Regions from separate parts of the Homo sapiens genome. Here region 1 is linked to region 2. Evidence: fine-mapped expression QTL. Tissue or cell type: whole blood. Region 2 holds a variant in brackets; the other region holds the start of a gene. All regions are shown on one strand. Distances are from middle to middle.

What was found. PIP is the estimated chance that this variant, and not a neighbour inherited with it, causes the effect.
Region 1: it holds the start of KIAA1614-AS1, and the variant in region 2 is fine-mapped to the expression of KIAA1614-AS1 in whole blood (INTERVAL, PIP above 0.99).

Annotation. Positions count from the first base shown.
Region 1 is chr1:180,950,354-180,958,455 of GRCh38, forward strand. KIAA1614-AS1 (KIAA1614 antisense RNA 1) reads right to left here and starts at 4,534. Exons shown (of 2, transcript NR_145481.1): 1 at 4,315-4,534; 2 at 1-565. KIAA1614 reads left to right here. Exons shown (of 9, transcript NM_020950.2): 9 at 1-1,261. RefSeq lists a silencer at 3,589-4,128 and an enhancer at 4,164-4,769.
Region 2 is chr1:181,127,560-181,135,661 of GRCh38, forward strand. No RefSeq gene overlaps it. Among named protein-coding and RNA genes, the nearest start is that of LINC01732, 43 kb to the right of the region's middle. RefSeq lists enhancers at 1,293-1,392, 2,703-2,782, 3,033-3,142, 4,352-4,531, 4,562-4,611 and 3 more. The variant G/A (reference allele first, on the strand shown) is at 4,960.

The DNA of each region.
Region 1 (8,102 bases), 180 kb before region 2:
GAGATGGCTGACATGAGCATGGCCAAGCTGTACTCAGGGCTGCTGGGGGTGGGCGATGAGATCCTCGAGGTGAACGGGGCCAAGGTGGCAGGGCTGGGCTTGGCTCACATTAAGGAGCTCCTGGCCCACTCAGAGAGCTTGTCAATCCGTGTCCTGAGGCAGAGACCTGTCCCACGGTGACCCAGAAGTGCCGCTGCCCTCACTGTCACGGCCTCGGAAGCCCTGAAGCACTCAGGGTGGTTGGCAGGAACGTGCTGCACAGAGCTGCTCTGTGGCGGAAACAGATCCTGGCAGCATCTAACCCCTTGGGCTGTGGCAGGGCTTCTGTGGTGGGCTGCCTTTGGGAGACGCAAGGAGCCTGTTTGCATATTTTGTTTAAGGCCATTTATCCAGAACTAGAAAAAGAAAAAAATGGGTCTCCTTCCATGTCTGAGGGGGTGTCAACATCTACTTGTACCTTTGTTGGCAGGGGGAGAAGGGAGATTCAGTGGATCCTTTGGTTGATGCCTGAGAGCCGGCCTCACCTCCTGGTCCCATGCCTGGTCAAAGGCTACAGCCTCCAACACTGTGGAACCAAAGAAAGCACATGTCCATATTGGCCTTGACCCTTCCCTATTTCAGCCACGTTCCTCCCTACTCCATTCACTGCCCTTGCCCTTTATCCAGAAATGGGCAAAGTGTCCCGGAATACCAGCCTTACAGCCATTGACCATATATGCCAAACCAAAATCAGAACGTGTGGTCTGGCAGGAGTTTTATGCCCCTTCGGGGTGTGGGAATTCTGGGAGATGTTATCTGGTAGCCAGAATATTAAAAATTTCTAGGAAAATTTTTTTATACATAAAGTTGAAAACAACAACAACAACAACAAAGACCAATTTCAGGACGTGCTACTGTGGTAGCCAGGATCCAGCTAGTGGGACCGGCCAGACCAGCCCCATGCCACCCCGGCCGCTGCCTCTGCCCAGGTGGAGGCAAGAGTTGCTGCAACCTGACCTGTGGCAGCCTCCATCTTAGTTCTGTCCAGCTTGGAGACAGGGCTGCGGCAGGTGCCTGGCCATCACAGCTGCATGCTTTCTGCCCAGACCTCCTGGCGGTGCTGTCGGTGGGCAGGTGGGTGGGTGGGCAGCAGGGAAGCTGCAGAGCGCGGCTGGGCCATCTGCCTGGGCCTCAGTGCTGCCTGGAGGGCTGGGACTCTTTGGGAGTGGATGGCCATGTGTCAGTCTTAACTTACTAAAAAGCAAAGCTAAAGCTTCTCTCACTCTGAGTTGCTAAATTCTCGGCTGGACACTCACTTGACCCTCACTAGCCATGGGCAGGACCAGGGAGTGGGGTGCTGGTGGTGGGCATGCCAGAGGAAAGGCTGGGGAGGCCACGGGTTAGGGTGACAGCCAGGGTAGATGCAGAAGCCTCCAGACCGTCCTTTGGCAAAAGAAAAGCCCTGGACAAGGTTTATGACCAGGAGAGAAGAAGCCAAGGGACTCTAGCTGGGCACAACTGAGGAGTGGAATAGGAAGTTCAGGGCTGTTTTAGAACTGGCCAGGGTGCCAGCTGTGGTTAAAAAAAAAAAAAAATCCTGGAACCAAGAAACCCAACCCTCAGCAGAATCGGGTTTAAAAGAGTGTCAGGGCAGCTTTCATTGGGCAAGAACACTGAAGCAGGCCTGTGGCCCAGGGACAAGGTCGTGGGGGTGGGGAGGCAGTCCTGTGCAGTGTTGGGAGTGTGTTCCCCCACCCAGGGCCTTTGCAGCAGGAGCCAGGTAGAACCCTGTCTTCATGATGCCCATGGGAGGAGAGGGAGGGGCTGAGCCCCATGGCTCACAGAATGGGGTAGGGGGGTGGAGGAGGAATTAGGGGGATCTGGCAGGTGAGCAGAGGGGCCAGAGGAACAAGTGCTTGGGGCTTCAGGCTGTGAAGAGGGCACTGGCACTCTTCAAAGTGTAGAAATGAGCCCACAGCAAGAAACTTCAAGTGTGGAGAAACCCTGGCTCCTCCTATACTGCAATTCTTGGCCTAAGGTCACAAAACTGGAGAAATTTCATGTTGAGAAAAGCTCCTGGGGGCCAAAGACAGCTCCACTTTTCTCTGAAAAGGACAACTTGCCTTCCCAGGTGGGAGGAGGTGGAAGGGGGTGGCTGGGGCTGGGAGGACGGGAAAAGGCCTCAGGCGTATCACCTCCCGGGCTGGTGACATACTTAGTCCTTAAATAGTCCTGCCAGGTATGTCCTGCTCATTGTCTTCATTTTGCATAGATGGGGAACCAAGTTCAGCAGCAGTGACAGGGCATGCAATCCTGCCCCTCTGACTTGGGGCCCACTTTTCCCACTGCAGCTGCCTCCCCATGCCAGAAAAGGCTTGGTGCTAGGGGAGGGGCACGAGGCACGCGGGACACTGGAGGCTCCCAGGCCTCTGGACGGTGACCTAATTCCAAGGAGGCAAAGGCGCTGGCATCCCAGCTTCTCCCTGGGGCAGCCTGATGTGCAGGCCCTGCCTTGTGTGGAAATGGGAGGGGGCTTTGGTTCCTCCAGCCTCCTGTTTGACCTTCCCCAACTGCCTGCATCTGCCTGCCTGGGGAGCTGCTGACCTCGAAGGCCTAGGGCAGCCCTGCCTCACACACTGGAACATCAGAACCTTTTTTTTTTTTTTTTTTTTTTTTTTTTTGAGACAGTGTCTCACTCTGTTGCCCAGGCTTGGAGTGCAATGGCACAGTATCAGCTCACTGTAACCTCCGCTTCCTGGGCTCAAGTGATTCTCCTTCCCCAGCCTCCCAAGTAGCTGGGACTACAGGCGCCTGCCACTATGTCTAGCTAATTTTTGTATTTTTGGTAGAGACAGGGTTTCACTATGTTGGCCAGGCTGGTCTCGAACTCCTGACCTCATGTGATCCGCCCGACTCAGCCTCCCAAAGTGCTGGCCTGAGCCATAGTGCCTGGGCCATCAGAACCTTCTTACTGAGAGCTTATTAACCAGGAACCAGGCCTAGGCCAGGCAAGAGCCCCCGGACTTAAGAAAGACCCGCAGCCTCAAGGGGCCCCAGCCCAGGGGGAGGCACACACACATTACAGCGCCGGATGCAGGGTATGCTGCAAGAGGAGCTGCAGCCGGTGTAGCCTGTGGGTAGCCTGTGGACAGCCTGGGGCCGTGATTCGTGGTTGGCCGGGTAGTTGGCAAGGGCGCCAACCGGGCAGGTGAGCACAAGCAGGGCTTTGTAAAACGAGTAGGAAGCTACAGCAAGGGCCAAGTGGCTCAGGCACAGAAACGAAGCAGCCACATGCAAAGGTGTGGGTATTCCCGGTGTCTAACTTATGTCCCTCCCGCGGTTCACAGAAGGCCCCTGACACTGGGACTACACGGAGCAGAAAGTGGCACCCCTTTGCCTCAGGCACCTCAGTCTCCTCGGGGCTTGGGGGCATTTTCAGAAGCCACCCGCAGAACCAGCGTCCCGGGCGGCGGCTGGTTTTCCCCTCTTTCCCGGGGGCCCCCCTCTGTCGCTGCGGGGTGCAGCGGCGGCGAGAGATATCCGCAGCTGGCACCCGGTGTCCCGGGAGGGAGAATCGGGGTCTGTCGCGGGCCCTGCGACCAGGAGGCGACTGTGCCCTCAGCAGCTGCCCCGCGCCCGCCCCGCCCTCAGGCCACTAGAGGCAACCTCGCAGCGACTCCGGTGCCCCCCCAAGTCTCCCTGGCAGGGCGGGCTGTCCCCACCGGCCAGGGCAGGCAGCGGGCGGCCGCTTGCTCTGCACCCGCAGACTCCGCGCCAGCCGCGCCTTCCCGGCCACGCGGCCGCCCGCGGAGTGTTCCCGCCGCGCAGACAGGAGGCGTGGGGCCAGGCAGCACAGCCAACAGCCTCTGTCCGCGTCCTCCCGCGGGGCCTCGCGCGGGCGGGGGTGAGAGGGGAGCGGCCCGTTGCGCTGCCTGGGGGTCGCCAGGGCCTTCGTGCCAAGGCCGCTTCCGCGAGGCGGGGTGTGTCCAGCAGGGCACCGGCTGTTAGAGCCGCGGGGGCCTGCAGCCTGAGGGTGGAGGGAGGGCGGGCTCGCGGGAGTTTTGCAAACCCCGCCCCCAGCACACGCGCGCACGCGTACACGCACACACACTGCTGGGCTCACCCTGCCTTTGAGAAACGCACGGCTGGGGAGGCGGACGGGGCCTACTGGTGCACCGCACGGTCCCGGGCCTTGCTGAAAGGTGATGTGGAGGCGGCGCGCCGAGCCAGACTGGGAGGATGAGCTGGAGCTGGCCGGAGGGATGGGGAGGAAGTGGGGCGACCTATGGACCCTCATGTCCGTGGGGCGGGGGCGGGGTGTGCAGGAATGAGTACCTGGTGCATGAGTGTCCCCAGCTTTCAGGCGTGCTGGAAAAACCGCAGGCCGGCTCGAATTTTGGAAACCAGTGTTAACCAGGACTTCAAGGACCTGCCTTCGTTGGGCTGTCCCTCGCCTTGCCCTGCCAGCTACGCAAATGTTCCAGAGCTCTGTTGAGGTCATTAAATCACCCTGAATCCATACGGCAACACTGCGAGAGAGAGACTATTATACCAGGCTAACGCACGAGGAGTCCGAGGCTCAAAGGTTAATTCACAGATAGATCCAAGGTCTGGGAGCCAATCAAAAGCGGAGGCAGGATTTGAACCTGGCCCTCTGTGACTTCCAGCCAGCATCCTTCCACCCTCCTGGGTCCCTCTGCAGCTCACCTCCCTTGGAGGCCCTCGAGCAGCTCTGGAGGCCCTGCTTGGCCTGCCCGCCACTGACCTTCACCAGGACGCAGGGGCTCTCATTTTGGTTTTTCTTCTGGGAAGTGGGGCTGGAGAAGAGCAGGCAGATCCCTTTCCAGGGCAGTGTTTCCAAACTGCAGGCACAATTCACTCATGGGTTATAAAAGCAATTTTGTGGGTTGAGACCAACATTAAATTAAAATAAAAATTAGAGTGCTTTATACAAGCCAAGGGTAGGTTAGGTTTTGAGAAATGCTTCTGCAAGTGTGTACCGAGTTGTAATTTAAAGTGGGTTATGGCTCTGTTCTGCGGGGAGGCAGAAGAAACCCTCAGGGCTATGGCCTGGCCCCTGGGGTAGTGGGGAAGAGGCCTCCATCCTAGATGCCCAGGTGTCCTGGGCAGCTGTTTGTTTCCACCTCTTTTCCGGGTGTGCCAAGAAGAGGCCTATGACCCAGGAGAGGAGGGCAATGATGCGACTGTGGACTTCTTAGTCTTCCAAACTGCCTCTGGGCACAGGATTCTTGTGTGGGTATTATTGGCAGGAGCTTTGTTTGTTGGCTCCTGGATCCCACTAGCCCCAACTTCACCCATCCATGCACCCACCTACTCTCTCATGCTTTATGCATGTGCCTTGGCTGGAATGCCTTTTCCCTGTCCCCCCACAAACCCCGTGGCAGCCTTCAAAAATATTAGAGGTGTCTGTCTCTGGAAGCATTCCCGATACTGCATGCTGACTTCGGCTCCTCCCCTTAAATCCCATAGGATCTTGTACCAAGGGCTCTTTATTGTGACTCTTTAGGTAGAATTGCTTGTTTATCCTCCACTAAACTTACCTGGCAACAAGTGGACTTCCCTAGTTCATCTACCCAACCCATTTCCCACCCCAAGTCCCCAGACTAGTTCTGGAGCGACTCAAAAGGCCCTGCTGCACCTGCATGAACAGGCCTTCCCCTTTCTCCCTCCCTCCCCCACATATCCGCAGAGAAGTTTCCCTCTTTCCTACAAAGCCAGAGCACCTGCTTAGAAATGGCAAGAGCCTTCCTTGGCAAGAAGCTCTGCCCAGCGCTCTCTGGCTGTGGGTTGGCCAGGTCGGAGTGCTGGACCCTGAGGAAAGGGGCTGCGGGGACTGGCGCTGATATGTGCCCATGGAGCCAGGGCTTAACAGCTGCCCTGCCAGTCCTGGAGGGTATCCGGAGCTCTCCTGTGGCTGCCAGGCTGCCTGCCGGGCCTGCCTTTGTCTTGTCCTTCTGCAGTCTGGGCTCAGGCCCCTACTCACAGTGTGGAGCTGCCCTTAGGGTTCTGGCCCAGTGCCAGGCACTGGGGAGGGGCCTGTCCTGCCCTTAGGATACCCTCATCCCCAGGATGGATACAGCTTTGGTTGTGAAAAAAGGCCAGCGTGCAGGGCTACAATGGAAGCCCCAAGGCAGGAGGCCCCACTCTACCTAAGGAGCAGAAAGGCTCCCAGGAGAGCCAGCTCTAGGACCCCATGCCCCCCAAGACCCCAAGCTCACCAGCCTCCATCCAGCTCTGGTGTTAACTCAGGAACAAGGGGTGCTGGCAGCCATGGGAGTGGCATTCAGAGGCCACAATTTTCATTCTCATCCTGAGCTCCCCAGACTAAGTCTCCAGGCTTTTCTGGGTTTATACAGTAAGGGGTTTGGCTCATTTACTTTTTGCTTATTTCCAGCCAAATACACAAAAGCTCCAAAACATTTATCAGCAAGGCGGACCTGTGTGAAACCCTGAGCCAGTAGATCTCTTGAACCCTACAGTGGACTTGAAATGCGGTCAAGTCCAAGGCAACTGATATCCATGCTTTATCCCAGGTACTTCTAGTTCAGTGCTTTAATCTGCCACTAACTGGCACCGCTTTTGTGACCCCTCTCCCCACTCCTCAGCCTTATGTTACCACTTCTCATGTTAGAGGGATGGCTTAGTGAGACATCTGCTTGCCACCACTGAAGTCAGGCCAGTGTGTTTTCTCTTCATGGAGGCCTTGTATGGTCCAGGCCAACCTGGGCTCCAATTCTGTCTCTACCACTTACTAGTTGTAGCCTTAGACAAATTTCTTTATTGCTGCATGCCCCAGTTTTCAGGTGTAAAATTGGTCTCAACAGTATTTCCCTCGTCGGGTTGAGAACTGAATGAAAATGTTTTGCTCCTCACGGCATCCCTACAGCCTTGGTCAAAGACCTACCCCACACATCAGATTTGCATCAAATATTGGCCAGAACTATTGGCTACTGTTTAGATAAAACTTTCAGGAAGTTTAGAGTTACTGACCTCATCGAAGGCCAGCCAATCTTACTGTGCCAGGAGAAAGCATCTGATGGTATGTGAGCAAGTGGGCTGGGAAGGGAGGTGGGGAGAAAACACCATCCAAAGAGGCTGGAATCGGAAGTGCGTGCCCACACTGGCTTCTGGAGCCCGTTGCCCCCTCTCTGAGGTGCATCTGTGGTGATGCTTGCTCAGGCTCAGCCTGCCCCTGCACAAACAGCTGCTGCTAACGCTCCGTGTAGCAGCACCTGGGCAGGTGGGCATACAGCTGGCATCTGGAGGTGCCAAGGATCATTTACTGATTTGAAATTTGTCCTCTAGGACAGTGACCTATTATGGTGGCATGGACAGGCCTTCCCTTCCTGTGAGTTTCATTTTTGCCTCAGGTCTTGCCTTTTAACATTTTGGGACCTTTGCAATGATGGCAAATGAGTTTTGCTGCACAGCAAAGCCGTGAGTAGAATCGAGTCACTGTCCACCTGTGGAACTGGACCCCTCAGCCTTGCAAACTGTGTCCCTCTGCCAAAGCGACACAGTCCATGTTTCTCCCTCGGGTAGGGGAGATGATCTACTTTTATTAGAGGATACATATAACCCTAACTCTCCAAGCACTCGTTTCTCTGGCGAGGCTGGTCAGTATGTTTATTTGCCATCACCTTTTCTCCGTAGCTATTACGTCTGGGAGAAATCAAGCTAAGGACTTAGCAAGCTCTGATATGGCACATTCCGTGCTAGGCATGAGGGTCACAGTAAGCAGCTCTGCCTCTCACCACCTGTGTGACCTTTGGAAAATGACTTTTCTGTGTCCCAATTTCCTTACCTGCAGATTTGAGGTAATAGATGAGGAAACTTCTCATTTTTAGAATTCTATGTGTTAGTACAGACAAAGTACTTAGAACAGTGCCTGGCACATAGAAATTAATATCAGTGAGGATGATGATGGCAAATGGAATGATCAAGATCTCTCTGCCCTTAAGGGCCTTACGTAGCCTCATCACCTCATCCCACATAGAATTTAGGGCAGGCTCTCTCAACTACCAATTTGCTTGGACAATAGTCTTGTTTGCCAGCACTTCAGTGAGCAGGGGAATGAAGGACTCAATTCCTTTCTGTTCTGG
Region 2 (8,102 bases):
GAACTGAATTGGAAGCTTCTGCCTGTGGCTTTTTTTTTTTTTTTTTTTTTTTTGAGATGGAGTCTTGTTCTGTCGCCTAGGCTGGAGTGCAGTGGTGGAATCTTGGCTCACTGCAACCTCTGCCTCCCAGGATCAAGCAATTCTCCTTCCTTAGCCTCCTGCGTAGCTGGGATTACAGGCATGTGCCACCACACTCAGCTAATTTTTTTGTATTTTTAGTAGAGACGGGGTTTTACCATGTTGGCCAGGCTGGTCTCAAACTCCTGAACTTATGTGATTTGCCTGCCTTGGCCACCCAAAGTGCTGGGATTACAGGCATGAGCCACCGCGCCTGGCCTGCCTGTGGCTTTATTGAAGGCCTTAGTGGGGACATTGTTAGGTGCCTGCTTTTGCAACACCACCTTAGCAGGACTTACAGAATCTTAACTGGAAAAGAAACTTTAAACTGTATTAACTAGGCCGGGCACCGTGACTCATATCTGTAATCCCAGCATTTTGAGAGGCCAAGGTGGTGGTTGTGGTGGGGCTGGGGGGGTCATTTGAGCTCAGCCTGGGCAACACAGTAAGATCCTGTCTCACTATGGGCAGGGTGGTGCGTGCCTATAGACCTAATCACTTGTGGGGCTGAGGTGGGAGGATCGCTTGAACCCTGGAATAAACTGTGTTAACTGACTTTCCAGCTATGATGCCTGGGGAAGTCATTTAACCTCTCTTAGCCTCAGTTTTCTTGTCTGTACAATAGGGATCAAAATGTTTACCCTGCAGAACTCTTGAAGGATTAGGGATGTTATAGGAAATGACTTAGCATAATGCCTGGCCCAGCTAACCACTGAATGAATGGTAGCTGTTAACATTAACCAATGCGTCATTAAATCTTCTTTTTTGTGAGGGGACTGGGGGATTGTTGGCTCCCCTGTGGTCTGCTCACCCATTGCTGAGGCCCCCTCCTTGGCACAGCCTGTTCCATAGAAAGAGCAGACTGCCAGCCACTCCTCTCCTTCTTCCTGAGGAAGCCCAGTGTCCCCACGGGCCATCGGACCCTTGCCCCTGGCGCTTGAGGCTTGGACACATGGTGACACCCTCTGCTTTTCAGCTGGCAAGCGTGCTCCCTCTCCAGGCTGGCCCCAGGGCAGGCCGGGCAGGGGGAGCTGGCCTCGTACTGGGGATGCTGGTCCTCTGCCCTGCTCCTCTGCCAGCTGGGCGGCTGGGCCCGGCAGCAGCTTGGACTAGCTTGAAGGCCCAGCAGGGGCCTCTGTGGGCGGCAGCCTCCCTGAGCCCCTCTTTTAGCACCGGGCCATCTGGTGCCTCTGTCCCCTTTTGTGTGCCTGCGGGGAGAGGAGGGGAAGTGAAGGGGGAGGAGACAGGAGATCTCTCTGGCCAGCTTTCTTCTGAATTGAGGAGAAGGAGGAGTTTGAGACAGAGGGGAGCAGGGCCTGGGAAAGAGGTGGAGGGGACTCTAGGCTTGGGACTTAGGAGGAAAGGAGGAGGGAGACATGAGAGATGGGGGGGAGAAAGAAAGCCCAGAAGGAACGGACGCTCTAGGATCCTGGGTACGAGAGCTCAAAGGGAGAAGAGAGCAGAGAGAGCAAGCCAGAACCAGAATGCTGTGTGGAGAGGAAAGGGAGTGCTGCAGAAGAGGGAAGAAAAGCACTCAGGAAAGAACGATGTCCAGGAGTTGAAAGGGGTGCAAGACTCTCTCCAAGTACAATGTGTTAAGTTGGTGCCTTATTTCTGTTCTTGGAAAGAGGAAGTGAGAGTGTGTGGGTCGGATGCCCTTCCCTGGTCAGGCTGAGGGTCAAAGGGAGGGGCGGCTGAGACCTGCAGCGTGAATTTCCGCAGAGCAGCCTGGGGCCCAGCCTGGCCCTGCCCAGTGGCCATGCAGGTTGGTTCCCAGTCATGGCAGGCACCAACTGCGGACTCCCTAGGGGTGGGAAGAAAACGTCTCCTACTAATACCCCTTTGATGGGGTTCACCTGGGGAGTAAAAATGCATTACTGAGGGCATTAGAGGCATGACTTTAAAGAATGTCACGTTTGGGATTTTACAGGCTTTGAAGCACCTGTCCCCTGCCGGATGGCAGAACATCCCGTGTCTTCCATCAGGTCCCAATGGCGTGGCATGAATGATGCAGACACAGGAATAACAATAAAAGCATGTGGCTTTGTGCTTCTCTGGTGCCATGTTCATTTGGGCTCACGGTCTGCATTTGGTGTAGTCACAGAGGACACAGAGAATGGGCTATTTTCTCTGCTGAGGACAATACAGACTGGACTTGGGTTGAATGCCTGCCTTTCCCTGGCTCTGTTCCTGGAGCCCGCTCAGAGTTGAGCTCCTCTCCCTGCTGAGTTCTTCCAGGCAGTGGCCCCCTCCCTCTACACTCTGGCCCTGAGGTGTGGTTAGCCCAAAATCTGCCAAGTCATCTGCATAAGGCCTTATCAGGGTCTGTCTTCCAGTCCCATCTGGAAAGTACTGTCCTTGAAGTGGGAAATCTTTGCAAATGAACGCACGACTGAGGCACTGGGAGAGCACACTAGGCATGAGAAAGTTGAGTGTGACTGATTTAGTGCATGTAGGTCCATTTAACATCAACCAAGTGTCAAGATTTTTTTCTTCCACCATTAAGTTCACTTGAAGATCACAGGCTGGCAGCTCTAGGAAGCACTTTGCAGCTCCAGTGCTGGTGTGGGGGTGCTCCATCCTGCCTCAAAATGTCCCTGCAGTGGTTCAGCCCTGCTGGGCTCTGGAGGAGAATGTGCCTTAGACATGCTCCCCGAGGAGCCATGGGGAGCAGGGCAGGCCACGGGGGAAGCAATTGCTGCCAGCGGGGCACGCTCACCTTGAGGAAGGGCAGGCTGCGGCTCAGAAGATCCCTGAGCAAGGTCACCAGATGTGGCCAGCGGACAGCTGACAGCAAGCAGAGATCTTGGGAGATGTCTGTTCGTGTGCATCTGCAGACAGGCTCACAGCTGAGCCACCTGAAGAAGGGCTAGAGATGACTTGCAGCAACTGCTGTGTATCGAGCACTTACGACGTGCAGGGCTTTGCACGGCAGGTGGTCCCAATCAGTCCTTGCAGCACCCTTGAGAAGGATGAAGAAGCCGTGGCCCAGAGAGGCTAAGGGACTTGCCCACCATCACACAGCCAATAAGGGGCGAAACTGCTCTCCAAACTGTGGCCAGGGGTCAACAAAGGCTGGGCCTGAAGGAGTGCAGTGGAGGAGGGGCACAGCTGGTGGGGGTGTCAGGGAGGGTTGCATGGAGGAGGCCTTGAAGAATGAGCAGGACATTGACTCTTGGAAGGGTGATATTTCTTCCAAATGGAGAAAATAGCAGGCACCAAAGCACAGGGCCTATTTTGGGATCTGAGAAAAGGGCAGATTGTGGAGTGCTGTTTGGAAGAGTCAGGCCAGGGAGGCATGTTGTCCATTTGTGGAGTCTTTTTTTTTTTTCCATTCTCCATTTATTCATTTATTTATTTATTTATTTATTTATTTATTTATTTATTTATTTATTTGAGATGAGGTCTCACTATGTTGCCCAGGCTGGCCTTGAACTCCTGGGATGCGGTGATCCTCCCACCTCAGTCTTGCTAGTAGCAGGGATTACAGACCTGTGCCACATCACCTGGTTCATTGTATGAAGTCTTAATGCCACTCGGGGAGGCTGTATTTTCTTTATAGGGGTGGGGTCTGATGATGGTTTTGATGAGGGAAGTCCCATGGGTGGGCCTGTCCTGGCAGTGGCCTGAGGGGTTGGAATGCAGGGGAACAAAGAGCAGCAGGGCTGAGGCAGAAAAGCACTGTGGGGGCACAAAGATGGAGGGGTGGTGAGGAGGCCGCATCTACAGGGACACTGGGTGGGGACAGGGGATGAGTGGGTGAGAGTCGGGGCCTGAGAGGATTCAAAAGTGACTGAAATGATGATGGAGGGGTTATTTATAGAAATGGGGAAGTCACAGAGAGAAGGTGCCTTTGAGTCGGGGAGGGGACGGGAAGAAGAAGGAGGGAGTGGATTTTTATTTTGAACCTGGTGGTTGTCAGTGGTTTGCTGGACCTTCGGGGGGGCCAACAGTGAACAGCAGGGGCTCCCTGATAATCAACCCTAAAACCTTGTCTGGAACATGTTCAGCTTCTTCCTTGCCCACCCTCCTCCCACCCCGCCAGGTGCTGAGCTCACCCTTTGTGATTCTTGGCCTTACATTCTGCACCTCCCAGTGGCACTGGAACCTTGGATGCCCCGGGGAGCTGCAGGGCCCCAGTGACCAGCTGGTGCTGAGGGTCAGAGACTGCGACTGTGCAGGCCATGTCTGCAGGTGCTCCCCTGTGCAAGGCCTCCAGGGGTGGGGGTGTCCCTCAGACCTTCAGGGAAGTTGCTGATAAAGAATTTCCTTAGAGGGGGTAAGTCCCCCTCCCAGACCCAGCAAGGCCTTCTCTCTGTTTCCCCGGAAAAACCTCTTCCATCCTTCCGAAGCTCCAGGCCTTGTGGGTGTGACAGCGTGCCTGGATCCAGAGGCAGCAGGGGAAGGGGGAGACATTTTGGTTCAAGGGGCCATGGCAAAGGCACTGCCTGGCAGATGGAGGAGGGAGCTTCCTGCTGCTGGAGTGGCCGTCCTGGCTGTGAGTATCCTGTCCCCTCCACCCACCTGTTCACCTCCTTTTTTTTTTTTTTGAGATGGAGTCTCACTCTGTTGCCCAGGCTGGAGTGCAGTGGCGTAATCTCGACTCACTGCAAGCTCTGCCTCCTGGGTTCACACCATTCTCCTGCCTCAGCCTCCCGAGTAGCTGGGATTACAGGCGCCTGCCACCACGCCCAGGTAATTTTTGTATTTTTTTTTTGAGACAGAGTCTTGCTCTGTTGCCCAGGCTGGAGTGCAGTGGCTCGGCTCACTGCAAGCTGCGCCTCCCGGGTTCACGCCATTCTCCTGCCTCAGCCTCCCCGGCAGCTGGGACTACAGGCACAC[G/A]CTGCCACGCCCGGCTAATTTTTGTATTTTTAGTAGAGACGGGGTTTCACTGTGTTAGCCAGATGGTCTCGATCTCCTGACCTTGTGATCTGCCTGCCTTGGCCTCCCAAAGTGCTGGGATTACAGGTGTGAGCCACTGCGCCCAGCCTAATTTTTGTATTTTTAGTAGAGACGGGGTTTCACCATGTTGGGCCAGGCTGGTCTCAAACTCCTGACCTCAGGTGATCCACCCAACCTTGGCCTCCCAAAGTGCTGGGATTACAGGTGTGAGCCACCACACCCGGTCTTCCCTCCTCTTTTCAAACACTCTACTGGTACAGGGGAAAAACTTTTTGAACTCAAATTTTGGACTTGAATTAATTCCAATTCTAGGAAGAAGCAAATGGGAGTGTAAATAAGATTCATTCATTCATTTTCTCACCCAAGAAGTGTGTATATTGTGTCTACTCCATGTCGGATAAATGATAGCTAAGCTAAAATCCCCCCCACCCCAGAAGAGGTAAGAGTTGGGAGGTACAGACACGTAAACAGGCAAGAACAGTATAGGAGCAGCCCATGACCCAGATTTGGGGAGCTTGGGGGTGCCTCTGCAGAGAAAATATTGCCTCAGCTGAGACCTGAGGTAGGTAGGAAACTGACCCAGGCAGGGGGAAAGGGACAACAGTGATCTCTGCAATGAGAACAGCAGGAGCAAAGGCCTGGATGAGACAGCATCCCCACCTCACTAAGGCACTAGAAGATCATCAGCTTAAGGAAACCAGCGATTCTAAAGACGCCTGCCCAGTAGGTCTCAACCCTGGCTGCACATTAGAATTACCTGGAAGCTTGAAAAAAATGCAGCAGTCTAGTCCCCCATCCCTAGAGGTTCTGATTCCCTGGGTCTGGGGAAGGTCATGGACACTGGCATTTAAAAAGTTCCCAAGCTCCCCATATGAGGCTAACCTGCAGCCTGGGCTGAGGACGCTACCACTGGTTTGTTTACTGAGGTTTGCTAATTACAGGCTGGTCTTATTCAAGGGAGTGAGGGGTTGAAGCTGCTGAGTATAGTGGGAAGAAGGGAACAGCAGGTCTTTAAAATGAGTCTGCTTTGCATCCCTGAACTGACTGAGCCAGTGGCACTCTCTACAGAGAGCCAGCTTCTCCCCATTTCCCCTCCTCTCCATCTCTTTGTTCCCACTGCCACCACCTTGTGCTGGCCCCTTGCCTCTCCAGGGATCGCCCAACCAGGCCCCTGCTGCTCAGGCAGTCAGCATGACCTTGACCCAAGGCACAGACAGGTTCCTGCGGCTCCTGGCCTGGATGGGATACGCCCACCTCCCACAGGCTCCTGAGAGAGCACATGGCCGTAATCCTCCAGCCTCACACCTGCTACCCCTCGCTTCACAACTTCTTCTACCCTGAGAAACCCCACACTTGTCATTCCCTCCCCACCTTCATTTCCCTTCCTGGAATGTCCTCTCTGCCTTCTCTACCTGAATTCCCTGTGTTCCTTCAAGAGGCTCAGGCGACAGACCCTGTAGGTGAATTCAGTGCATTCTCTGCACACCCAGCCCGCACTGCCTGCCCACATGCCTGCGTGGGAATGGTTAAGACCAGATTTCTCCAGCAGCCTTCAGCCTTTGCTTCCCAGGCCTAGTGGCCCCCAGCACAGAGCAGGCGCTCAGGGAAGGTGAATTAATGAGTGCAGCTGAGGTAAGGGCAGCGGCCAGGGCCTGCCTGCAGATATTCATGCCATTTGGGCTGCTCTCCTGTTTTGAAATGAGGAAATTGTGGGCCGGGCGTGGTGGCTCACGCCTGTAATCTCAGCACTTTGGGAGGCCAAGGCGGGCAGATCACCTGAGGTCGGGAGTTCGAGAACAGCCTGACCAACATGGAGAAACCCCGTCTCCACTAAAAATACAAAATTAGCTGGCGTGGTGGCGCATGCCTGTAATCCCAGCTACTTGGGAGGCTGAGGCAGGAGAATTGCTTGAACCCAGGAGGCAGAGGTTGCAGTGAGCCGAGATCGTGCCATTGCACTCCAGCCTGGGTGACAAGAGTGAAACTCCGTCTCAAAAAAAAAAAAAAAAAAAAGAGGAAATTGTGGTTCCCCCAGAAGAAGAGAGACTTGTCAAAGGTCATTCTGTAAATGACAGAGTTGGCATTTATTAAGTCTCAGGTTTGAGATTGTTGCCTCCAGGGTTTTTCCGGCTTTGTGTTGACAATGCCAGATTTTCAAGGCGGGGTGGAGGAGCGTGGGAATTAGGGGAAGCTGCTATGTGACCCGCATCTTTCCTCTGTCTTCCACCCAAGTGTCCTTGTGCCCCCAGCTACTTTCTCCAATTTGCCTGATTTCATCCTGGGTGTTTTGTGTTTGGCTTTCACTACTGACTTCTCCTGTGGGCCCCCTGACAGTGACCGTGACTCTTAAACAGCCTTGTGGTTTCACAGTGCCATCCCTGCCAGGCGCTAGTTTCTTCAGAGCCTTGGTCCCCCAGCTTGGGAGCCTGGGGATGGGTGTGCCCCATGGGAGGGGCAGGCAAGGACAGAGAGCAGCGAGACTGTAGTGGGGTGTTTCTGCCTGTGTGTCCCTGGGTGTCTGCATCTGCGTGGCAGCAGCCCAGCATGAGGCTGAGGGTGAGGGAGGCATGCCCGGGCATGTCTGCTGGGGCAGGCTGGCCAGGTTCCTGAGAAGACCAAGGAGATCCTTGGGAGAGGTGACTGGATCTGAGGCATGGAGAGAACGCCCGAGTCGGGAGGGAGGCGAGCCGGAGCAGGGATGGGTATTGATGAGGAGGCTGTAATGGGGGTGGCTGGTAGTAGTGGTGGGTAGCATTTATTGACTACTTACCAGATGCCTGGCACTGGGCTTAGGTCTTTTACATATATTGGATCGTTTAGTCCTTAGAACAACACCATGAAGTGAGATTTATCTCCGCTTTTCAGATTTTACATTTTGCAGTTTACAGATAAGGAAACTGAGGCTCACGTCACCAGTCATCATTGGAGTCCCTGCCTGTCTGAGCCTCTGACTACTGTCCTCTCTGGAGAACTTGAGAGCCCTTGTGGGGACATCTGGAACTGCTGGGTGGGGTTCTAGGGGTGGGGGAGCTGCAGCGGTGTGGTTCAGAGCCAGGCAAATATGGATTTCTATTGTTTTTGTG